Regions from separate parts of the Homo sapiens genome. Here regions 2, 3, 4, 5 and 6 are each linked to region 1. The links come from fine-mapping of genetic effects on gene expression. A gene starts in region 1. Each other region holds a variant in brackets. All regions are shown on one strand. Distances are from middle to middle. Region 1 holds the start of SLIT1 (slit guidance ligand 1). Region 2 overlaps ARHGAP19 (Rho GTPase activating protein 19). Region 3 overlaps ARHGAP19 (Rho GTPase activating protein 19). Region 4 overlaps ARHGAP19-SLIT1 (ARHGAP19-SLIT1 readthrough (NMD candidate)). Region 5 overlaps SLIT1 (slit guidance ligand 1). Region 6 has its middle 13 kb from the start of FRAT1.

The links. PIP is the estimated chance that this variant, and not a neighbour inherited with it, causes the effect.
Region 2: its variant is the best candidate, but not a certain one, in a credible set for the expression of SLIT1 in whole blood (TOPMed, PIP 0.56).
Region 3: its variant is the best candidate, but not a certain one, in a credible set for the expression of SLIT1 in subcutaneous fat (GTEx, PIP 0.70).
Region 4: its variant is the best candidate, but not a certain one, in a credible set for the expression of SLIT1 in whole blood (INTERVAL, PIP 0.52).
Region 5: its variant is the best candidate, but not a certain one, in a credible set for the expression of SLIT1 in thyroid (GTEx, PIP 0.79).
Region 6: its variant is the best candidate, but not a certain one, in a credible set for the expression of SLIT1 in whole blood (INTERVAL, PIP 0.51).

What each region holds. Positions count from the first base shown.
Region 1 is chr10:97,183,763-97,187,848 of GRCh38, reverse strand. SLIT1 (slit guidance ligand 1) reads left to right here and starts at 1,890. Exons shown (of 37, transcript NM_003061.3): 1 at 1,890-2,371. The coding sequence starts at 2,175. The region is part of intron 11 of ARHGAP19-SLIT1 (ARHGAP19-SLIT1 readthrough (NMD candidate)); the gene reads left to right. RefSeq lists enhancers at 1,045-1,545, 1,546-2,046.
Region 2 is chr10:97,254,651-97,258,736 of GRCh38, reverse strand. It overlaps ARHGAP19 (Rho GTPase activating protein 19), which reads left to right. Exons shown (of 12, transcript NM_032900.6): 6 at 2,333-2,419. ARHGAP19-SLIT1 (ARHGAP19-SLIT1 readthrough (NMD candidate)) reads left to right here. Exons shown (of 15, transcript NR_037909.1): 6 at 2,333-2,419. Among named protein-coding and RNA genes, the nearest start is that of ARHGAP19, 36 kb to the left of the region's middle. The variant A/G (reference allele first, on the strand shown) is at 1,735.
Region 3 is chr10:97,225,802-97,229,887 of GRCh38, reverse strand. ARHGAP19 (Rho GTPase activating protein 19) reads left to right here. Exons shown (of 12, transcript NM_032900.6): 10 at 14-124; 11 at 663-741; 12 at 3,756-4,086. The coding sequence ends at 3,766. It overlaps ARHGAP19-SLIT1 (ARHGAP19-SLIT1 readthrough (NMD candidate)), which reads left to right. Exons shown (of 15, transcript NR_037909.1): 10 at 14-124; 11 at 663-741. All of the region lies in intron 2 of LOC105378447 (a long non-coding RNA gene), which reads right to left. Among named protein-coding and RNA genes, the nearest start is that of SLIT1, 42 kb to the right of the region's middle. The variant C/A (reference allele first, on the strand shown) is at 1,660.
Region 4 is chr10:97,205,269-97,209,354 of GRCh38, reverse strand. The region is part of intron 11 of ARHGAP19-SLIT1 (ARHGAP19-SLIT1 readthrough (NMD candidate)); the gene reads left to right. Among named protein-coding and RNA genes, the nearest start is that of SLIT1, 21 kb to the right of the region's middle. The variant C/T (reference allele first, on the strand shown) is at 1,796.
Region 5 is chr10:97,117,363-97,121,448 of GRCh38, reverse strand. All of the region lies in intron 4 of SLIT1 (slit guidance ligand 1), which reads left to right. Among named protein-coding and RNA genes, the nearest start is that of SLIT1-AS1, 17 kb to the right of the region's middle. The variant T/C (reference allele first, on the strand shown) is at 1,783.
Region 6 is chr10:97,304,053-97,308,138 of GRCh38, reverse strand. No RefSeq gene overlaps it. Among named protein-coding and RNA genes, the nearest start is that of FRAT1, 13 kb to the left of the region's middle. The variant C/G (reference allele first, on the strand shown) is at 2,081.

The sequences.
Region 1 (4,086 bases):
CAACAGCCTGAGTGCTGTCTGTGACAGGCCTACTAAGTGCCAGGTGCTGGGGTGTGTGTCTGGGTGAGCGAGTGAGGATGCCAGGGGGTGGGCAGGGGTGTGGAGAAGCAGCTGCAGGTACTAAGAGGGGATAAACAAAGCAGCGGGCATGGAGGAATGTCACTCTGAGGCTGCGGGGAGAGCATGGATAGAGGGGCTGGGGCCCCATGGAGCAGGAGCTGGTGAGCTGCAGGGCAGGGGCAGCCCTCTCAGACTCCGGCCTGGTTTGTGGGAAGCTTCCCTAATATCCCACCACACAGGCACCCCTGAGAAAGCCCTGCCCCCTGAGAAACTGAACTTATGCTCAAGAACCCACTTACCGGATGGAGGTCATGGACAGGGATGTGTGAAAACTTTAAAAGAACTGTCAAAAGCCCATAAAATCAGCCACCTAAATTGTAACATACTGTGCTATGACAGTAGAGAGACTGCAAAATTCTCATCAACATGGAAAAGAAAAGCAAAGAAAACGCCTGAGCCTTGGGTACCTGGTGGGTGATAAGGCTTCAACCTTGTGGAGTCTATCAACCTCCCCTATCCCCACCCTGCCCGACACTCTCCCCACCAAATGCGTCCATGCTGTGTCTGGACCCAGGCCGCTCCTGAGACGGGAGGTGCTTCTCGGGCTACCCAGCTGTGTCCTCTTGCCAAGCAGCCTCACGTCAAGGCCCCGACTGCTGGACACTGCCCCAGCGAGCCACAGCTGTCCTTGGCGTTGAGGAGATCTTTCGTCTTTTCTGGGGTTGAGGAGAATTCTCTCCCCACCTGGATGTCCCGTTCACACCCACGTCCACACATGCCTTACGGTGACGAAGGTCCCTACCCAGCCGGGTGTGAGGCCTGGGTCTGACGGGGCTGGCCTGTGGGGTTCTCTCCCAAGCAGGCCGCCCAGCGCTATGCCAGCCCTCTCTGTCTCCTTTGATGTCAAGATGGAATATTCATTTTCATCTGTTTCCACCTGTCAGAAATGGAGGAACGCTGGTGTGAGTGGAGGAAGACGTTTGCCAGATTTCCAAGTCCCCTTAATGTCTGTCCCTCTCTTCTACAACGGGGGAAGAAGCCCGTGTAACTGTATGGTACAAATACGCCCTGCTGAGCAAGTGTTCCAATCAGAGCCATTCTCATCCTGGGCATGCGGCTAGCTTGTTCCCCTCTGAGAAGTGGGTGCATTGAGGTAGGAAGGAGACTGTACTCCGCCTAGCGCTTTCGTGGACCCTCCCCCCCGACAAAGCTCCATCCTCAAAGTCCAGGCTAAGTAAGGTTGGTGGCTTGAGGATGCTACCTGGGGCACAGGCACAGGGTTTCCCTTAACCAAGAATTGACACAGCGAGTCGGGTGGGGCCGAGAGGCCGCTGCTGCCGTCGGGGGATGGGGGGAAACGGGTCTGACTCCCCGGGAAGGCGTCCAAGCGGCAAAATAAGATCTCCCTCCCACCCTGGACTAGCAGCTGGGGCCGCGGGTGCCGGGGTGCGTGCGTCTAAATGTGCGCATCCTCGCCGTGTGTGTGTGTGTGTGTGTGTGTGTGTGTGTGTGTGTGTGTGTACAGCCAGGACTTGGCGGGTCGAGTCACACCCCCTTCCCTCTTCTCCCATCCCCCGCAGCCCCGTGCCCGCTGACGGCGCCTCGGAGGTTCCACCTTTGAAACTGTAGGCGGCTTGCAGCCGCTGAGTGGTCGTCGGGAGAGGGGGGCTGCGGCGGGGGAGGGCGGGGAGGAGCCTGGCCCTGGATGTGTGCTTTTCGATTGATGGATGACTGCCGGGTGGGAGCGAGCGCGCGGGTGTGTGTGTGATCGTGTGTGTGTGTGTGGTGTGTGCGCAGGGTGCGTGCGCGCGCGGGGCCTGCCCATTTTCCTCCTCGCAGCAGTCAGTTGGGAGCTGGAGGGAGGGAGAGGGAGACGCAGGCGGCGAAACGGCAGAGGAGCCGAGCCCCCTCCGCCCAAGGCGCCCTCCCTCCGTCCGCGCACAGGCGCCGTCGCTTGGAGGAGCAAGGTGCCTCCCAGCCCGCAGGGGCGCCGCGCGCAAGCCCGCGGGCTCTTCGGTGGCTCTGCCCCGGGACTGCACCTGGAGGCGGCCCCGGACGGGGATGGTCAGCGGCTGCTGCCGTCTGGCTCGCGAGCGGGACGCTGTGAGGGCACCATGGCGCTGACTCCCGGGTGGGGGTCCTCGGCGGGGCCGGTCCGGCCGGAGCTCTGGCTGCTGCTGTGGGCAGCCGCGTGGCGCCTGGGTGCCTCGGCGTGCCCCGCCCTCTGCACCTGCACCGGAACCACGGTGGACTGCCACGGCACGGGGCTGCAGGCCATTCCCAAGAATATACCTCGGAACACCGAGCGCCTGTGAGTATGGTCCCCGCCCCTGGCTCCCTGGCTCCGAGGTTGCCCTCCCACCCAGACGCAATTCCGGACTTGGGGGTGGGGGCAGGACCATTGGGGCCCGTCCGGGCTCCGCAGCCCACAGACGGGTCAGTGCCTGCCGGGGTCTTTCCCGAGCCAGGAGCCAGGAGCGCCGTGGTTTCCCCATCCCTGGGATTCAAAGGGCCCTCGGCGGGGTTGTCAGCTTCCGTCCTCACACCTGCACCCTGCACCCTGCACTCCGCACCCTCAGGCCCTCCTCACTGCGCCAGCGCTTTATTCCTCCAGGGTGCCTGCGAACTGGTGTCAGAAAGCCTTCCTTGCACCCAGGAGGGACACTTCCCACACTCGCCAAGCACAATGTCTCCTTTTGGGCACATGGGGCTACGGCCGCGTTCTGAGCCAGCTGCGCAGATTCCCGCTCCCAGAGCTTGCTCCTGACGAAGGGCAGCAGGGTGGGATGGAGGCGAAGTTTCTGGTCTGCCCCTTCTTCTCCATTGTTTGCCCCAGAGCCTTGAGAATTCTTCCCCTGCAGGTGCCACGCGTTGGTCCCCTACTCACCCGCCTCCCTCCACACCCAGCCATCCCCAACACAGGCAGACAATGGGACCTGAGGGCTTTGGGTATGGGGCTTGGGGTATGTAACATTCAGCACCCGAAAAGGGGCAGGTGTGTCTTGGATGGAGAACCCGGTGGATAATGCCAAGAAGTCAGGAGCTTGGAGAGGGGGGCCCAAGGTTAAAGATATTGACCATGACAAGTAATAAAAAAATAGCATTTCTCTTCCCCTGTTCTGTCTCACTTGTGAATTCTTGAGGAAACTTGATCCTTTTCTTTTCTAGACCCAGTAAGCTAGTAGAATGTGTGTGTGTGTGTTTGGGTGTGTTTGAGTGTGTGTATTTACAGACCTTTATACTTTGTTTTCTGTGACTCTCCTGCAGAATGTGTTTCTGTGTGAATTCCTAGTATTAAGGGGCCACCTTAATAGCGTGAGGCCATGAGAGTCCCCGTAATGGGCTGTGTGTGTGTAGATTTTGGTCACATGCAGGGCCTTTGTACTGCTCGCAGAGGTGACTACACCAGGAGATTTTTGAACAGGGCTTTGGAGAAGGCTGCTGGCTCCTTTGAAACCTACCTACTCCTCCTTCCCACACTCCTCGGTGACTGCAGTGGCTCTCAGGAAAGGTGTGCATATTTTGATAACTTTCGAGCACATTTTCATGGCCCCCAGCTGGTCAGAGACAGAAATCTGACCCTGAGGAGAGCTGTCTCCCGAATCAGACTCTGTACCAAGGCCAGCAATTAGTGAGCACACATTTGCCCCAGACTCTTCTTGGCTGCATCTGAAAAATTCCCGTGGAGGTTTTAGAGAATTTGCAATCTAGATGCAATCTAGATGGGAAGTGTGTGTGTGTGTGTGTGTGTGTGTGTGTGTGTGTGTGTGGTGCATGTGTATGTGTGTGTGTGAATGCTTGTGTGTTACAGGGCTGGGGAGAGGTGGTACCAAACTGAGTTTCTGTGGGCAGCGTGTGCATTATCCTGTGTGGACCCAGAGAGGATCTGAGGGTCAGAAATCTGTCCAGAGGACCCCCGCAGTGGCCTGGTCACCCTCCATGCCTGTCCCCTCTGTACCTGCTCCCTGCTCCCCTTGCCTTGTCCACTGGAGTTTCTCCTGAAGCTGCTACCCTGGTTGCAGCCTA
Region 2 (4,086 bases), 71 kb before region 1:
ACGCTGGAGGAGAGTAACACAATCACTACTCACTGTAGCCTCATCTAAAGTCTTTTAAACAACTTGTTGACCTGGAGGTACATAGCTCATATTCCTGCCCACTTATAATATGGTTTTACTATGTGATGGAGTTGTGAGCCAGGATAGGTGGGTTGGAAGCCACACACCAGCGATGTTACCTATGTCTTTTACCTTTTTTTTTTGAGACAGAGTCTTCCTCTGTTGCCTAGGCTGGAGAGCAGTGGTGCAATCTCAGCTCAGTGCAATCTCTGCCTCCCAGGTTCAAGCAATTCTCCTGCTTCAGCCTCCTGAGCAGCTGGGACTACAGGCGTGAGCCACTATTCCTGGCTAATATTTGTATTTTTGTATTTTTAGTAGAGATGGGGTTTTGCCATGTTGGTCAGGCGGGTCTCGAACTGCTGACCTCAGGTGATCCACCCGCTGCTGCCTCTCGAAGTGCTGGGATTACAGGTGTGAGCCACCGCGCCTGGCCTTTTACCTTTCATGTTTTAAACAGCTGTCTACAAGCCATTTTTTGTTTGTTTAGTCTTTTGCCTTTTCTATGCATAGGCTTTTCCTCTGTAAACTGGGCATAATACAGTAAGTCCTCAACCTATTAACATCGTTGATAGGTTCTTGGAAACTGAAACTTTAATCAAAATAATCTATAACAAAACAAATTATTTTTCTCATCAATGTTATAATGAAAAGATGTTGAAGAAAATGATGTTATTCGAGGACCTGCTGTATGTCGGTTCACTTAACGTCATAGTTTCCAAGAACCTATTGATGCCTTAAGTGAGGACTTACTGTAATAGCTTTACTACATACCCCACAAGGCTGTTGGGAAGATAATAGAAATAGGTTATAGTAATTTATAAAAAATTTTTGAGATTATAAGTAATGAGAAAAGGAAGGTAAAGGAGAGAGATTGTGTGAAACATTTTACTTAAAAAATAACTAGTGAAAAAATAATAAAGTTCTGGGTCAGGAAGAGCCTCTGGGGGTGAGTAGGGGGAGCAGAAGACACATCAACATTTGTCCATATTAAGGAGATCAAGCCTTATAATGAAGGAATTTTAGAACCAGCTAACCAAGACTATAGAAAAGCAGTGAGCAAACTGTGGTTATAAAAAGAAGTAGTGACTTACGCCTGTAATCACAGCACTTTGGGAGGCTGAGGTAGGAGGACTGCTTGAGGACAGGAGGTTGAGACCAGCCTGGGCAACACAGTGAGACCTTGAGACCTTGAGACCTTGTCTCTACAAAAGGAAAAGAAAAATAAGCTGGACGTGGTGGCACATGCCTATACTCCTAGCTACTTGGGAGGCTGAGGTGGGAGGATCGCTTGAGCCAAGGAGTTTGCAGCTGCAGTGAGTTATGATTGCACCACTGTACTCCAATCTGGGTAACAAAGCGAGACCCTATCTCTAAAAAAAAAAAAAAAAAAAAAAGTATTTAAAAGCAAACAGATAAAGTAACAAAGATACATGTTGAAAATGAGGGCTTTGGGATAGTAGAGTTACTGAATTACTTAAAAAAGACAGGAGAAACAAGGGAAGGGAATCAATGACAATTTTGCTGTGTTTTTTGTTTGTTTGTTTGTTTGTTTTTTTGAGACAGAGTCTTGCTTTGTCGCCCAGGCTGGAGTGCAGTGGTGCGGTCTCGGCTCACTGCAAGCTCTGCCTCCCGGGTTCATGCCATTCTCCTGCCTCAGCCTCCCGAGTAGCTGGG[A/G]CTACAGGCGCCCGCCACCACGCCCGGCTAATTTTTTGTATTTTTGGTAGAGACGGTGTTTCACTGTGTTAGCCAGGATGGTCTCAATCTCCTGACCTCGTGATCTGCCCGCCTTGGCCTCCCAAAGTGCTGGGATTACAGGCATGAGCCACCACGCCCGGTAATTTTACTGTGTTTTTAAGAAACAGATGTCACCTTTGGTATCAGTAGTGACCATTCTTTTTTGTCTTTGGAGAAACTCTAGTTTTCTAAAGAGGCAGTGGTGTCCTTGATAGCTGGAACAGATTCTGTTTTTTTCTGCCCATTTTGAATCCTAGACTAGATTTTCCTTGCCAATTTTGTTTACATGTCTAATTTTCAAGCAGAATTAGGAAATGAAAATGGTTTTCAAGGATTTCCTCGTCACTTCAGGGACACATTGTTTTTCTAGATTATGTCATATCCTGATGAACCAAAAAGTCTTCCCAGAATTAAACATTGTATTAGAGGCACCTAGGCTAGGGATAGAAACTTCATACATTTGAAAGAACAGGCTTATTGGTAAGTACTACTTTCTAGCTCTTAATGTCCATTGTTTGGTTTCTTTTCCTCTGAATAGGTCACTGCAAATGACCTTCAGGAGAATATCACAAAGTTAAACAGTGGGATGGCTTTTATGATTAAACACTCCCAGAAACTTTTTAAGGTAGGTAAGGGATAGCATTTGGCTGGTAACAGGACAAAGAAAATGGAGCAAGGTGGGATCCTAAGTGGGGCTATAAAGATAACTAAACGAGAAAAAGGTCCTGAATGGGATTGCAAACCAGAATGGACAGTGGCAAAACCCAGGGGGTAACAACCACTATGGTGGAAAGGAGTAGGAATAGGAGGCTGAGTAGGGCTGGGTCCTCTGGGTAACTGACTCCACCCTCTGAGCCATTCTTCCTTTTTCACAAAGGCAGCACACGTGGCAGCTAGGTAGTTTTATCCTGCCTGCTTACTGCCAGTAGAGTTTTGGGGGTCTGCCAGTAGAATTTTGGGGGTCATTTTGTACTCTTTGGCCCTTTCAATCCAAACAGGCTGTATTTCTGCTGACATAATTTTCTAAGAACTTTGTAGGTCTTCTGTGGATTTCATTGAGATTCATTCTATTAGACAAAGGCCACATATACAAATCTTTTGAAGATAAATCTTTCCCTACCTTGGTCACCTGCTGAGAAACCTAAGGGACAGTACCTTTAAGCTTCCTAAAGGCTTTCTGGTTTAATTGAGAGGATCTGTGAGGTACGCTCTTACTCTCTTGAAAGGGCCCTTTGTATGATTGAATACTCTGACCTTTTGATGTTTCTAAGGTTTTAGCAAAACGTAGCACAGTCACATCCTTGACCTTTTCTTTAGTGTATACTTCCTTGATAGTGAATCTCTTAATTTTAGCATCTTTTTTTTTCAGACAAGGTCTCACTCTGTCGCCCAGGCTGGAGTGCATTGGTACAGTCTTGGCTCACTGCAGCCTCAACCTTCTGGGATCAAGTGATGCTCCCGCCTCAGCCTCCCCAGTAGCTGGGACCACAGGCATACACTGCCACGCCTGGCTGATTTTTTGTATTTTTTTGTAGAGACAGGGTTTCAACGTGTTGCCCAGGCTGGTCTTGAACTCCTGGGTTCAATCCTTCTGCCACAGCCTCCCAAAGTGCTGGGATTACAGGCGTGTGCCAATTTTAGCATCTTTTGCCATCTGGAGAGGCTGAAAGTTTCCAAGATCATCCAGTTCTGGTTTCTTTTTTTCTTGCAGTAAAATGCTTATAAAATTTGCCATCTTAACCATTTTTAAGCGTACAGTTCTGTGGCATTAAGTACATTCACGTTGTTGTGTAGCCATCATCGCCATCCATTTCCAGAACTCTTCATCTTGCAAAATTGAAACTCTGTACCCATTAAACAGTAACTCCGTAAAACCCTCCTCCCATCCTTGGCAACCACCATTCTACCTTCCATCTCTATGAATTTGACTACTCTGAGTACCTCATGTAAGTGGACTCATACGGTATTTGTCTTTCTGTGACTGCCTTATTTATACTTAGCATAGTGTGCTCAAGGTTCATCCACACAGTAGCATGTGACAGGATTTCCTTCCTTTTTAAGGGTGCGTAGTATTCCACTGTGTGTATATACCACATTTTGCTTATCTGTTCATCAGTTGATGGATATCCCTTTATATTCCAGATATCATCCTTTATCAGCTATATGGACAAATATTTTCTCCTATTCTGTGGGTTGCCTTTTTACTTTGTTGATAGTGTGTTTTGATGTGCAAATTTAAAAAAATTTTATGAAGTCTAATTTGTCAATTTTTTCTCTTGTTGCCTGTGCCTT
Region 3 (4,086 bases), 42 kb before region 1:
GTTCTTAAATCAGCGGAAGGTCCTGGGAAATCAGATGATGTCAGAAAAGAAAAAGAAGAACCCTACTCCAGAATCTGTGGCCATTGGTGAATTGAAGGGAACCAGCAAAGAAAATAGGAACTTAGTAAGACACTGTTCTTTGGACTGTCTGTCTGTCTGTATATATTTGTAGAAAAGAGGAAAATTGATATACTGTCATCTGTTTTACTGTGTTTCTTTGGGCCATTCAAATGGCTTTTTCTCAATCCTTTCATTTATGCTACCTTCTTTCTGTTGGTTTTCATTGACTCATTCAACAAACAAACACATTTTGAATTCAAGAATGATATCACTAGTCACAAGCAGATGAGTAGTACAGTACAGTAGCTCCTTAAACAAGTGCTGGAGGAAGCAATTAGTTCTTACTGGAAGATTCCACAGGTGACATTTGAGCCAGGCCTCCTAGGCTCTATATTACCTGTGGGGTGGTGGTTCAAGATATCCTAGGCATGCCTACTTCATTAAGCCAGCAGTAAATCAGTTAAGATTAATGAGATATAAATACATCAGTCTCAGAAAAACTCTTCACATTGAAATTGAACAAATAATTCATTTGTTAGTAAAGTCTGTCTATAGGAATGGCATTAGAACATTGAAACCACTGTACAATTTTCTTATTACAGTTATTTTCTGGCTCTCCAGCTGTCACGATGACACCAACAAGATTGAAGTGGTCTGAAGGGAAGAAAGAGGGGAAAAAAGGTACTAATTGTACTTACTCTCTGTTCTTACTAAATGTAATTCCTTTCTGCATCTAGTCAGTAGCATTTGTTTGAATTCCCAGGATAGTACATTTGTAGTCAGAAGTGACATAAAAATTACAAGGCCAGGTCCTTGCCCTTGAGTTCATTCACCAGATGGTTATTGAACCATTTACTCAGCATTGTCTTGGGTGCTAAGGGTAGAGCTGTGAACACAGACCCACATGGTCCCTGTGTTCTTGGACAGACAGGACACATGGGGGAAAATACCTTAAGAATACTTGCGAAGCAAATTAAAAACAAGTGTAAATGAATTTGTGAAACCAAGTTCAACAGTGCTGGGAGTATGCTTATGGAATAGTTAGGTTCCTTTTCTGTGTAGGCCAGCCCTAATTAGTGAAGCTTTCTAGATCAACAGCTCGTGCCTAAGGATCCTGGAAGTCATATCATACAGCATATTTTGGGGGCTATTTAGGACAAAGAGGACTATTTAATGCTGGGACTGCTGATTGTCCCAGGCTCTTCTGGTAAAAGCCTGCTGTGCCTTCCTCTGAAGGAGCCAAGTGGGTCAATGGAAAGACCGTGAGATTTGTGGTTAGTCCTGATGGGAGTTATCATTCCTCTGACCCAGGAAAACCACCCATTCTCTATGAATTCAAGTTTTCTCCTCTGAAAATGAGGATAAAAGTTACATCTACTTCACAGATTTATTAATTTATTATGAGGCTCAATTGAAATAATGTTTTGGCAGCACATTGTCATTGTTAAATCATTAACAAGTGGTTATAGTTGTTACTGTAGAAAACGGGCTGAAACCTGGTCTTGTTATATAAGGCTCATGTGGCAGCTGAAGTGAGTCTGGTTTGACATGATTGTTTTATCACTGGGATATGAGCATAATTACTATTTGAGACATCAG[C/A]AATAGGCAGAGATCAAAAGCCTAATCCTTATGGATAAATTCTTTTCTGGAAAATTAGATTTCAGTATATTCTTCTTACTTATCCTTGAATGAATTATCTAAACTCTCTTTTCTTTCCTCGTTGCTTCTGTCTTCCAGGCTGGGCTGTCTAATTGAGACAAGATGGGGGTTTGAGTTTTTTGTGTCTAAATATTTCTGTATGTCCATGAATCAAAACCAAGCATAAGTTATTTTTGAAGGCTACATTGTTTTGTATCAGTTACAACTTTTGTTGCTGTCATTTTTGAAAGACATGCGGAAATAATACCTTTCTGTATTGACAGCTCTACCTTGGAAAGAAAGAAAGACGTTTTTTAAAAACCAGTCTAATATTTCACCAATAAGCTTTAGAGCAGGGATTGTTGACCTTGTCATCTGTGGACTTCCTAAATGGTCTAATAAAGTTCCCGGTATTGTTGATGCAATCTTTTGTGTAGGTACATATGTGTATTTTTCTGGGGGAGAGAATATATGGTTCTAATTAGATTCTCAAAAATGTTAGTAGTTCAGAGAAGTCGAGATAATGAATGACCCTCAATTGGATCAGGCAATGGCATTTTCACTTTACTCTCTCCTGGTCACTTCCTCTATCTGGAAATGCCTTCCTGGTGTTATGATGCTACATTATTCTCGTTCTTCTTCCTCTTTAATTCTTTTCCTTATCTGCAGTGGCTTACTGTTGTTTGCCTATTCCACTACATCTTTATTTTTTTCAATGCTCTATCTTAAGTTCTGCTCTTAAGTTCTGTTCGTTTCTGCACCTGCTTCTCCTGCCTCTTTGCAGCTTGGTCTCCTTCCACTGCTCAGCTCTGCTCTCTGTATGATAACTACTTCCAGCCTGGCAATGCCAGGTCTGAACTCTCTTCAGACATTGGCAGTCTCCAAGCCCACAGATCCAGGTGCCTGCCATGTATTTCTTTTATACAACAATGAATATACAACCTCAGATTTTTTGATAGTGATGTTTATAATAAAAGTAACATATTCTTTGAAGAAGATAATGTAATTTTATTACTGTGATCAACAACATAATCCAAAAAGACTATTATTTAGTACAGGATTTCTCAACCTTGGCACACTACTGACATGTTGGTTCAGATAATGCTTTGTTGTAGGAGCTGCCATGTGCACTGTATGATGAGCAGCCTTCCTGGCCTTTACCCCATCGATGCTGGGAGCATCCTTCCCCCAGTTGTGATAAGTAAAAGTGCTTCTAGACATTGCCAAATGTCCCATGGTGGGTGAGGAGGCAAAGTCATCTCCACATGAGAACCACTGATTTAGCACCTACTTATTATGGCCATTATTTTCAGTAGTCAAAATCTTACCCATTCTTCAAAGTCTAGCCTAAATCTCACCTCCTCTTTGAAACTTTCTCTGGCTAACACAGCCAAATATAATACTTTTTCCTTTGAACTTATTAATGCTACAAAAATATTGACACTTAGTATGATTTACTGTATTTACTTCACATATTGTCTTATCTCTGTAACTAGTTTTTCTTCTAGAAGACAAAGGTCAGACTTAGTGTATTTGTGGCCTTCTGTCTCCTGTTCTTCTCATCTTCCGAAAAATGACAGTGCCTTGTGCTGAGTCGGCTTTTAGTAAACATTGAGTGTTGAGAGGGGCGGTGGTGGTAGGAGCATGAGTTCTGCATTCAGCTGGGCTTGGGTTCCATTCCCAGTTTTGCTGCTTAATAGCTTATATATTAGTCCTCGGGCAAATGAACTATGTAGGCTGCAGATTCTTACTCTGTAAAATGGTAGGAGTAGTACCTCATATACTGGTTATTGTGAGGATAAATAATGTACATAAATAACTTAGAGCAGCACAAAATATGTACTTACTGTTAGCTGTTACGGCCATTAAGATGATTTAATGAACGAGATTATATCAGGCAGATGTTTATTTGGTAGAGTCACACATTCTTAATTAAACTCATTAGCCTTCAGTTTGGAGAAAATATTAAGTGTAGACCCTGTAGCTTTTGAGTGGGATGTTTGCAAAAAGAAATATTTAAGAACATGTCTAACGCTCTTGTTTTTCCTTCAACCTAGGATTTCTCTGAAGGATCCAGAGTTGTCTCCTATGGTCCATGCAGAATTTTCTGTTTAGTGGGCAGGTGTTATTCCTGCCCACAGCAAAGCTTGGACTTGCAGCTTGCTTGCTGCATTTTGAATTGTCAAAGCCAACTAATACCGTGACCCGACTGATACCTCTAACCCCACTCACTGGATGATGTTTGCAAGCTGTGCCTTCTGAGAGAGTGCTTAGGCCCTGTCTCTCTTTTTTAATATTATGGGGAAACCACTAACTATCCAACCAGCTTATACAGCACACTAAGGTGGGCTTCAGTGCTCACTCAATGTGTTTAGGCAGATTCCACTT
Region 4 (4,086 bases), 22 kb before region 1:
TCCTCACTGGAACAGACTCTTATTCTAGATATGGATTTGCCATCTCTTCCCAAAATACTTCTGCCAGTGCAACCATCTGTGTCCATGGAATACCTCATTCACTGTCATGGAATTCTACATAATATAGCTTCTGTCTTGCTCTGTCGCCCAGGCCGGAGTGCAGTGGCACGATCTTGGCTCACTGCAACAACCTCCACCTCCCGGGTTCAAGAGATTCTCCTGCCTCAGCCTCCTGAGTGACTGGGATTACAGGCACCCGCCACCACACCAGGCTGATTTTGTATTTTTAGTAGAGATGGGGATTCACCATGTTGGCCAGGCTGGTCTCAAACTTTTGACCTCAAGCAATCCACCCGCCTTGGCCTCCCAAAGTGCTGGGATTACAGGCATGAGCCACCGCGCCCAGCTGTCTTTTTACTTTCTTATTGTGGCTCCAGAAAATGTTGAATTACCTATGATATCTGAATAGCTAGTATATGTATATGGCACCAGATTCAAAAGGTATGAAAGGATATTGAGACTCACAAAATGGAAGAAAATATTTGCAACTTATATATCTGACAAGGGAGTAGTGTCTAGGATATATAAAGAATTTTTTTTTTTTTGAGACAGGGTCTTGCTCTGTTTCCCAGGCTGTTGTGCAGTGATGTGATCACAGCTCACTGCAGCCTCAACCTCCTGGGCTCAAGCAATCCTCCCACCTCAGCCTCCCCATTAGCTGGCACTACAGATGTGTACCACCATACCTAGCTAATTTTTTGTAGAGATGGGATCTCGCTGTCTTATCCAGGCTGGTCTCACGTTCCTGGGCTCATGGGCTCAAGCCATCCTCCTGACTTAGCCTCCCAAAGTGTTGGGATTACAGGCATGAGCCACTGAGCTTGGCCAAGAATTCTTACAACTCAACAATAAAAAAAAACAAATAACCCAATTTAAAAATGGGCAAGGATATGAATAGACATTACTTCAAATAAGACGTACAAATGTCCAGTAAGTGTATGAAAAGATGTTCTGCTGCTTGAATCCAAAGAGTGTTAGTTCATGTCCTGTCCAGGAGATGATTTCCCCCACCTTGACTTTCCCCAGTGTCATTCAAGCCCCAGCTTTTAAGATCCCGCCCCCTAGAAGCCTTCTCTCTCCAGGCAGAGCTCTTGGCTCCACTAGCTGAATTCCCACAGCAGCATGAACGCATCTCTTCTGGAGCCCTGGTCACGTTGCACAGTGTTTATGTGACTGCTTTTCTTAGAGATGGTGAGCTCCTGCAGGGAAGGGATCAGTTCCTATTCACCCTTGCATCTCCCTGGCTTAGCAGGGTGCCTGGAACACAGCAAAGACTCAGTGTCTGGCTGGCTGGCTTGCAGGAAGGACAGCTGTCTCTATTTTTAATTTTTTTAGAGATAGGTTCTCACCTGGGCTGGAGTGCAGTGGTGCGATGACAGCTCACTACAACCTTGAACTCCCAGGGCTCAGGCGATCCTCCCACCTCAGCCTTCTGAGTAGCTGGGACCACAGGCACGTACCACCATGCCTGGTTGCCGCCTCTATTCTGGACTGAGAGTAGGAGACTGTAGCAGGAAGTCAAACCTGATTAGGTAAAGACCACGGCTCAGAAAGGTTAGGGAACTGCGCAGAGAGTTCTGGAACTGTGGCTGCCTCCATCTTACTAGAAAGATGAAACTGCTTTCTGAACCTGAAAACTCACCTATCTGGCTTGTAGATCTTTTAATATTCTAGGTTCCTGACTGAATGGGACGCCCATGAGTCACTGTAGGGGGGGCACAGGTCTGAGGAGAGG[C/T]AAGGCAGTGAGTCCCTAGGTTTCAGCTCAAACAGAAACCCTTTGAGCTCTGAAGGGGCATGTGCTTGCCATAGGAGGGAGCACCTGCTGGTCCTTCCCTCTCTGGCTCTGGTGGGTTGTTTCTGGAAACCCTTGGGTCCTAAGGAAACCCTTTCTCAGTCTGCCCCATTGGCTGAGGGCAGATGTGGGAGATGAAGGATGGGCAGGGGCCCTGCTCCATGAACCCGCACTTGGCCCGCCCTGGGGAGCCAGCAGGGTGCTCTGTGAACCCACACTTGGCCCACCCTGGGGAGCCGGCAGGGTACTCCATGAACCGGTACTGGGCCCACCCTGGGGAGCTGGCAGGGGTTGCTGGGCTCACCACCTCCTGTCTCTACAACCCCCAATCGCTGGCCGCTCACAAGTGGCCATTGGATGTGTGAGAGAGATTTCCACAGAAAGTGTTTCTGTGGCTGCCTCATTTTAATTAAGTGAACCTGGAATTTAAGGGTTAGCTCCTCGGTTTTGGGGTGAGCCTCTTGTAGAAATCCATCTCTTGTAACTCCCAGTGTTGGCAAGTGTGTAGTGAGATGGGGACCCTCACACCTGCTTGGGGTCGGCGGGGGGCTTTTCTGGGTAGTTTGGCAATAAATATCAAGCCTCAGACATTTCCCCTTGTGTTATCATTTATTTTTTAGGTGTGATAATGCGGTTATGTTAAAAACAGTCCTTTTGTTGTAGAGATACATACTGAAATATCCATGGGTGAACTACACAGCAAACAAATCTGGGATTTGTTTCGGCATCATACATTTGGGGTAAGGAGCGTGGGTGGGGTATAGCTGAGAAAAGCTTGGCTGTGGGTCAGCTGTTGTGGATGCTGCTGGATGAGGGGTTCAGGAGTTCATGGTACTGTTCTGTCTACATTTATTTATTTTTTAAAATTCCATAATAAAAAAGTTCAATTAAAAAGTCCCCTTTGACTTGGCATTTCTACTGTGATGACATCAGTCCAAACCCCCAGCATCACTCACCAGGCTTCCCTGTTTTCATTCCCATCCCTCCTCGGTTCAGGGGGATCATGCCCCATCTGCATCTCCACTCACAGCCCTGGGATCCCTAGGGCCCACCTGCCCCCAGGCTTCCAGATCCCAGAGCCTGTGGGTGCTCTCTGGCCTCAGCATCAGGGACACTCTCCCTCCACCCCCAAACCCCTCACCTGGATGGTGACTACTCATTCATCTGATGTCAGGTTGGTGTCATCTCAGGGGAGCTGCTGACTCCCAGGCAAAGTCACACTTCTCTAATACTCTCCATCCTTCATGGATGGGTCCTTCATAGCTCTCACTATAATTTGTAACTATAAACTCTTTTTTTAATTAATTATTTTTTTGAGACAGGGTCTCACTCTGTTGAGGCTGGAGTGCAGTGGCATGAACACAGCTTACTGCAGCTTGGCCTCCCAGGCTCAAGTGATCCTCCCACCTCATCCTCCCAAGTAGCTGGGACTACAGGCACATGACACCACGCCCGGCTAATTTTTGTATTTTTAGTAGAGAGGGTGTTTCATTATGTTTCCCAGGCTGGTCTTGAATTCTGGGCTCAAGCGATCCGATTGCCTCAGCATCCCAAAGTGCTGGGATTATAGGAATGAGCCACCACACCCTGCCCTGATAAGCTCTTGTGATTGCTTTTGTTTCATTGCAGTCTGCCTCCTGTACTAGACTGTGAACTCTCTGAGGGCAGAGACTATGTCCGTGTGGCTTACCACTGCATCCCAGAGCCACACACAGAGCCTGGCACATAGTAAATTAATGCAGAAGGGGACACGTGTTTGACAAACATGTATCATGTTCCAGGCAAACTCTGTGCATATAGTTGGCTGGCTGAGAACATACAGTTGGAAATGTTAGGCAAGGGCCACATCACAAGGGCCTTGTGGCAACATTAGGGGACTGGCCGGATGGTGCAGATCCAGGGAGCCATTGAAGGTGCTCAAATGGAGGAGTGGCATGTGCTCCAGGCAGCCCCTCTGGCTGTCTCATGTTGGAAGGGAGACCCTGGAGGCCGGGTAGCCAGATGGGCTGGCACTGGGGTCCCATGGGGGCTTGAGCTCAGGCCAGGGCAGTGGTGATGGGGGCGGGAACGGAGCCAGTGTTTGTGGCAGTGATCCGATGTGGCAGCTTCTTGGCCCTTCTTCCCTGAAGAAACAGTGCCTCTGCACAAGAGAGGTGGGTAGGAGCTGTATAGGGCCCTGCTGGGGACAGAGTATGTTCCACAGACACATCCCTGGATCACAAAGAGGTTTGCAA
Region 5 (4,086 bases), 66 kb after region 1:
CTGGTGCATAGTCGGGGTGCATTTGTGTTTAAGAAGGGAAAGCTGGTGGGGCTCTGCACATGTTTGAAGGGATGGCAGCTCTAAGAGCAGAGTAGACAGATCAGCTCGTCCTGGTGAGAGATTTCCCAAGTCTGCAGAAGGGAGGGGGTAAGCCGACTGCCTTCAGCGTGGCTTCTCAGGGTGACACCACTTATTGTGTAATTATGGAACAATGTGCATAAAAGTGAAAATGTGGGTCCAGATGGCAGGCCTTCCATGCTGTTGAGAGGCAGAGCTAATGAACTTAACAAATCACTGATAATTAATTTTCAGAAGCCAAAGGAAACTGGGGAGCAATGAATAGGTCTACAGAAGGAGAGAATGCAAAGTAGTGCCAACTGTCAGCCTGGAGAGAGGTGTGAGATGCTGGCACTTCCAGGCCAGGGAGACCGTCTTGACATCTAATAGTTTTGGTGGGACAGAACCGGGAGAGAGAAGGCGGTCCAGGTAATATAGTAATAGTCATGACAATATTAGCCAAGCTTGAATGAACCCTTCTATGTGGCAGGAACCATTGTAAGCATTTTATTTGGATCGGCTCTCATTTCAGGCAGCTTCTCCCGTAGGGTAGGGAGAGAGAGTCAGAGTCCAGTGGGTGATAGGGGCCTTTGTCTTACTACCATGGAGCAATGAGGCAAAGTGATGAGAATAGCTAATATTTACTGAGCACTTGCTGTGTGCCAAGCACTGTGCTGAACTCTTCCGGAGGTGTCGGCCGCTTAGCATCATCAACATCCTAGGAGGAGGCACAGAGAGGGTGGGTGACTTAGCCTGCACCCTCAGCAGGATGCAAAGCCTGTGAAAATGTGGAGCCAGGAAGGACTGCGCCGCCGCTCAGAGCCGCCCGTGCACACGGTGTGAAGCAGCATTGCGAGTCAGGAAACTGCGTTTCGGCTCCAGTACCCCGACACAAGTCCTTGAGCCTGCCCGGAGTTTTGTTTCTTTAACTGTGAAATGGGAGCAGTGGATTTGAATCAGGAGGACACACACTTTTCAGACAACAGTCCTGTGTATTCAAGTAAATCTCACAGGGCACCGGAGATGTAAAGCAGACATTGGAAAGGAGGGTGGGGTCTGCTCACTTGCGGCCCCTCCTTTCTCACAGAGCCCCAAAGCCATTTGGGTCTCATTTGGGCAGCTGGGGATGAGCTCAGCAGTCACAGGGAAGTGGCTGTGGGGAGCGGGCCTGGCACACTGTCTTCTTGCCCAACCCTGGGCTGAATCTGACCCTGCACCTTACTAGCTGTGCAGTCCTAGGCAACTAGTTTAACCTCTCTGAGTCCTGTTTTGCTAAACTGTAAAATGGAGCTAAAACTTCTTTGGGTATTCATAAGGATTAAATGTCATAATGTTGTAAAACTCTTAGCTCTATGGATGGTGCCCAATAAAGGCTCAACTAGAAGGTAACTGACAGATAAATGTTTGTTAAATGGATAAGTACTTTTGAATCTATATACATATACATATATATATATATATATATATATATATATATACCCCTTTGGAAAAAAAATATGTATTTCCTCCTAAACTTTCAAGACTAAGTGAGGAAGAATTGGAAGCCCCAGGAAGATGGGCCAATCTGCCAACATTGGGCATATTTGCTCCAGGTGAGAACGAAGGGACTGATCTAGCTGATGGGGTGAAATGTTTGAGTCCCTTTGTCTTCCTCGCTGGCTGCCAACACAGAGTGGGCGTCCACCGGGACCCTCCCCACCGCTGCTGAGCCACCTCCTGCCTGTC[T/C]CTGGGGGTCAGATGCAAAGCCAGGGAGGATGGGTGAACCCAAGGCGCCGTCTCCTGAGTCCTCCCAGACCCTCCCGATGACCTCCTCGCACCGCCCCGTCGCAACCCACCTTCTGTTCACGGCCCATCAGCTGGCTTTCTCCCTGACTGCGCTCGGATTTGAGCCATTGTGAATTCATGTTTCCAGATTAATTAGCAAGGCCCCATGTCAGATGCTAACTGGAACCCAGATGTCTGCTTGGTTCCTGCATCAAATCATTTTGTCCCTGTAATTGAAGAACACGGAGGCAGCAGCCAGGCTGGCCAGACCCACTAGCTTCCCCCGCCCCTTTCCATTAAAAGAGAAATAAACCCACTTCCCACCTGGGAGGATCGGGGAAGGGGGATCTGCCCACCATTTCTGTGCCAGCCAATAGGATGGCGATGAGTTGACCCCTGACCTTCCTGTGAGGGTGGGGTTCCCTGAGGAGTTTCCCATGGGTTTACAGGAAGGTAAGAGGGGTGGTGAGGACGGAGAATTCTTCCTAATTTTGACTTTAGCCAGACACCCGTTTCCCAAGCTAGAACACTGCCCCTCCAGGGGAACACAAGAGACCCCAGGCAGTGCCTGCCTGAATGGCCCATCGCTGCTGGGCTGCGTGGAAACTTCCAGCTTCGGGGTCACGTTGTGCATGCCTGAGTGAAACAGACATGTCAGAGCAGGGATGTATTTCCGTTTCTCTCCAAGCCATATGTTGTGCATGTGTGTGTATGCCTTTTGTTTTTTAGCTATAATTTATTGGGCACTTACTATATCCCAGTCGTCATGGCTAACATTTTATATGTACTGTCTCATTTAATCCCCACAGCAATCCTATAAGAGAGGATTCTTTTATCCCCATTTTTTCTGGTGAGGAAATTATGTATAGTTCAGAGAGGTTAAGTAACTTGCCCAAGGTTACGTGGCTAGTGTGTGACAGAGTTGGGTTTGAATCATTCGGTATGTCTTTTAAGTGGAAGCAGCAGTTACAGGAAAGATGAGCCATGTTTCCTTCCCCCTTAATAATGTGTGTTCTCCTGGGCAGAAGAGGTGAGAACAGGTTTGGTCATACCTTCGCCTTTTCTATTGAAGGTCAGAACCTGCGACGGCCATTTTGGAGATAGAGGAGCGCTTTGATGGGTGGCACAGAAGATGCCAAGGGAGGCCAAGAGATGCATGGGCTGGAGTCTGGAGTGTGCCCGAAGCCTGCAGAAAGCCCTTAAAAGTGGGGAGTGGGCTCTAACTCCATGGCTAGGTCAGTGCCCCAAGTCCTGCTGCGCCAAGAAGTGGAGGACAAAGTCCTGAAGGCCCTGAGTTCTTTGGGAAGTTCATGGGCATCCCAAAACTGAGGGTTCAAACCCAGCTCCAGCTTACGCAGCCTGTGACCTCGGGCTGCTCGTGTCACCTTTTTGAGTCTCAATTTCCCCATCAGCAAAATGGGCCTAAAACCTTCTTATACCATATAGTCCTTGTAAAGCTGCACTGAGTATTATGTGATATTCAGGCCCTCAGGAAATGTGAGCGTACTGTGATGGGGCCAGACACCTCAGAACGTCTCAATTTAATAAAGTAGAATCTTAAATAGTAAATGCAAAGATTTGGAATAGCCATGCTCAAACACTAGAGAATGAGGAAGCTGTTTATTAAAAAATGTAGATTTCAGAGCCTTACCCCTGACCTTCTTATTGAGAATCTGAGGCTGGAACCAGAACTCTGCATTTTGACAGATCCCCCTGGGGTTTCTGAAATGTATTCATTGAGCTTTCATTCTGAGACACATTTACAGAACATTCAAATATAAGAGCCGGCAGTGACTTCAGAGGTCTTTTAGGCCCCTCCATTCACAGAGAAGGAACTCAGGTTGTAACTCGGAAATGAGTTGTCCTCAGGGAGAGCCAGAAGTGGATCTTAGTTCACTGATTTTTCAAAATAGTTGCTGGTAACTGAGTGACTTGCATGTGCGTCACTTGCATGGCCCAAGCCTCATGGACTTTTTCAGACTCAGCAACCGAAGAGATTATTTATATACTCTCAAATTCTACCCTTCCAATTTACCCCTGGTACACTGTCACCAGGTGGCAGTAGTATGCTATAGAGCCTCAAGGGTTGTTCCTGGAAATCCACACCCTTGTGGATTTATAACCTTGAATAGTCATATTCCTTTTTTTAGTTGTTAACATGAAGACAAACACCTTTATTATGCTAGCTAAATGCAAGCAAACATCAAGCAAATATCGACATGGAGAGTATGTTTGGAGCAAATTTTCCAAGCAAATAAGTTATTA
Region 6 (4,086 bases), 120 kb before region 1:
TCGGTCCTACTGCCCGATGCCCTTAATGTTTTTTTGGCCAGGTTCATGCATCTTGGGTCAGAACCCCGGCCTCTTTCCCTTTAATCCACTCTTCTGACAGATCAACTTCCTAATGCCCAACCCTGCTCAGGTTACCCACGGCCTCCCCTCTGAACAGGTCCACATGGCCTCTGGAGTAAACTCTTCCACTCCTTAACACAGTGTCCAGAACTCTCAGGGGGGCTTGCCCTGGTCCACTCCTCCAACTTTATCTTGTCCTCCACCTCCACATAAACCTTTTGTTCGTGTCAACTGGGCCCTTGCCAGCTTTCAAAAACATCTTACATGTTCCTATCACCCCATGTTTGTTCCTGCTCTTTGTGTAGAGAATGCACTCCCTGAATTCCACCCATCTAAATCTTAGTCCAGCTACAAACCTCCTCATGCAGCTATCTCTGCTCTCACCAAGAGTCAGTGGTTCCTCCCACTCTCCTTCTTCCCACTCTCTTTGGTTCCTCCAAGTGAGCCCTTACCACATACCTCCTTTCTATAGTGAGTTGGGCTGGTCTAGACTGTCAGATCCATGAATCTAGAGGTTAGGTTCCTCTGATTTGCCAGGCCTGTGTCGCTTGCCCACTCCTGTAGCCAGAAATGGGATCAATGCCACTTAAAACACATGGACTGAGGATAAAGGAGCATAAAGGAGCAGAGAACCTCTACAGAGATGCTGCATGCATCAGAACAAAATCCTATGTCCAATATAGGCAGGATGTGTTTTTTCCATAAGATCTAAATAATCTCATTGTTTCTATGCATTTTTTTTTTTTTTTTGAGACAGAATCTGGTTCTGTAGCCCAGGCTGGAGTGCAGTGGTGTGATCTCGGCTCACTGCAACCTCTGCCTCCCGGGTTCATGCAATTCTCCTGCCTCACCCTCCCAAGTAGCTGGAACTACAGGCACCTGCCACTACGCCTGGCAAATTGTATTTTTAGTAGATATGGGGTTTCACCATATTGGCCAGGCTGGTCTTGAACTCCTGACCTTGTGATCTGCCCGCATCAGCCTCCCAAAGTGCTGGGATTACAGGCATGAACCACCGCGCCCGGCCAGGAATCTTTGGTTTGATTCATTTGTTCCTTTATTCATTCAACAAATAGTTGGCTAAGTAAAGCCAAATGTGTCACTTGACCAGCCTTAAAATAAAAAAGATCCTTTTTTTTTTTTTGAGATGAAGTTTCGCTCTTGTTGCCCAGGCTGGAGTACAATGGCGCGATCTCAGCTCACCACCACCTCTGCCTCCCGGGTTCAAGCAATTCTCCTGTCTCAGCTTCTCAGGTAGCTGGGATTCCAGGCTCATGCCACCACGCCCGGCTAATTTTTGTATATTTAGTAGAGATGGCACATTGGTCAGGCTGGTTTCTAACTCCTGACCTCAGGTGATCTGCCCACCTTGGCCCCCCAAAGTCCTGGGATTACAGGCGGGAGCCACTGTGCCTGGCCGAAAGATTCTTAAGTCATGAAGCTACACTCCAGTAGAAGACAACACCACTCAAGCAATCATATAAACACATCTAGAAATGCAGCAAATGTGAAATGGCAGCCTGGGACAGAGTTCTTGAGTTCTCCAGAAGTTGTTTAGGTTTCCTAATCAAAATGATTATGTGGAATTATGTTAACTGGGCAACAAGCATTTTCTTTCACAATTGGAAGCGGTCCTTATTCCAGGCCGGGGGTGGTGGCTCACGCCTGTAATCCCAACACTTTGGGAGGCTGAGGCTGGTGGATCACCCGAGGTCAGGAGTTTGAGACCAGCCTGACCAACATGGTGAAACTCCATCTCTACTAAAAATATAAAAATTAGCCAGGCATGGTGGCAAGTGCCTGTAATCTCAGCTACTTGGGAGGCTGAGGCAGGAGGATCCCTTGAGCCCAGGAGGTGGAGGTTGCAGTGAGCCAAGATTGTGCTACTGCACTCCAGCCTTGGGGACAGAGTGAGACTCCATCTCAAAATAAATAAATAAATAAACAAATAAATTCACATATTTCAGAAGAGGTAGTTTTGTATTTAATTCACATTAAAGTGTAAGTGAATGAACAAAAG[C/G]AGCTCTTTTGATAACTCTGAAAGAAGGTAAGTCCTATGGATGGGAATGACTAGATCCCTGGATGGGGATGTGTAAGCCTAAGGAGCTGAAGGACAATTTCCTTTATTTCTGATTTTTTTTTTTTTTTTTTTTTTTTAGACAGGGTTTCACTCCTGTCACCCAGGCTGGAGTGCAATGGTGTGATCTCAGCTCACTAAAACCTCCACCTCCACGGCTCAAGCAATTCTCCTGCCTCAGCCTTGAGAGTAGCTGGTACTGCAGGTGCAAGCCATAGCACCCAGCTAGGTTTTGCACTTTTTTTGGCTGGACGTAGCGGCTCCCGCCTGTAATCCCAGCACTTTGGGAGGCCGAGGTGGGCAGATCACCTGAGCTCAAGAGTTCGAAACCAGCCTGGCCAACATGGTGAAACCCCGTCTCCATTAAAAATACAAAAATTAGGCCAGGGGTGTTGGCTCATGCCTGTAATCCCAACACTTTGGGAGGCCGAGGCTGGCAGATCACGAGGTCAGGAGATCGAGACCATCCTGGCTAACATGGTGAAACTCCGTCTCTACTAAAAATACAAAAAATTAGCCGGTGTGGTGGTGGGCGCCTGTAGTCCCAGCTACTTGGGAGGCTGAGGCAGGAGAATCGCTTTGAACTTGGGAGGCGGAGGTTGCAGTGAGCTGAGATCTCGCCACTGCACTCCAGCCTGGGCAACAGAGCGAGACTCCATCTCAAAAAAAAAAACACCCACATAAATTAGGCCCAGCGCAATGGCTCATGACTGATTGCCTGAGGCGGGCAGATTGCCTGAGGTCAGGAGTTCAAAACCAGCCTGGGCCACATGGTGAAACCCCATCTCTTTTTTTTTTTTTTTGAGACAAAGTCTTGTTCTGTTGCCCAGGCTGGAATGCAGTGGCGCCATCTCAGCTCACTGCAAGCTCCACCTCCCGGGTTCATGCCATTCTCCTGCCTCAGCCTCCCGAGTAGCTGGGACTACAGGTGCCCGCCACCATGCCCAGCTAATTTTTTGTATTTTTTAGTAGAGATGGGGTTTCACTGTGTTAGCCAGGATGGTCTCGATCTCCTGACCTTGTGATCTGCCCGACTCACTGGGATTACAGGTGTGAGCCACCACGCCAGGCCGGTGAAGCCCCATCTCTACTAAAAATACAAAAAATTAGCTGGGTGTGGTGGTGCACTCCTGTAATCTCAGCTACTCAGGAGACTGAGGCATGAGAATTGCTTGAACCCAGGAGGTGGAAGTTGCAGTGAACTGAGATCGTGCCACTGCACTCCAGCCTGAGTGACAGAGCAAGACTCTGTCTCAAAAAAGAAAAAAGAAAAATGAAATAAATAAATAAAAATTCTGTTTTTTGTAGAGACAGGGTTTGCCATGTTGCCCAGGCTGGTCTTGAACTCCTGAGCTCAAGTGATCCACCTGCCTCGGCCTCCCAAAGTGCTGGGATTACAGGTGTGAACCACCATGCCTGGCCTTACTTTCTGATTTTGAATGGGGGAATCTTTGAAGCTGACTCTGAAGCCTCCATATCTAGAGGACAGAGAGGTGGGGAAATATTAGTGCCTTTCCTGACCTTCATCCTACTTCCTAATCACTATAGAGACTTTATGTGCAAAATTTCTCTTCATACCAAAACAAACTCCATGAAAATGGGTTACAGTGGTAGGAAAAAGGGATCTGTGCATCAGTTCACAAGACCATGGAGGCAACATCCAACGTAGTGGGCTCACAATGTACTGGCTTGCTCTTGACTATCACAAATGTGTTACTGCTTTGAAACTTCCCACCAGCCCCTGTGGCCTTCTGACCTGAGGCCTGGGTTAGGGTCTTAGTTTGTTCTCTGTTGCTTATAGCAGAGTTCCTGAAACCGGGTAATTTATAAAGAAAATAAATTTATTTCTTACAATTATGGAGGCTGAGAAGTTCAAGGTCAAGGGGCTGCATCTGGTGGGAGCCTTCTTGCTGATGGAGACTCTGTGAAGAGTCCCAAGATGGTACAGG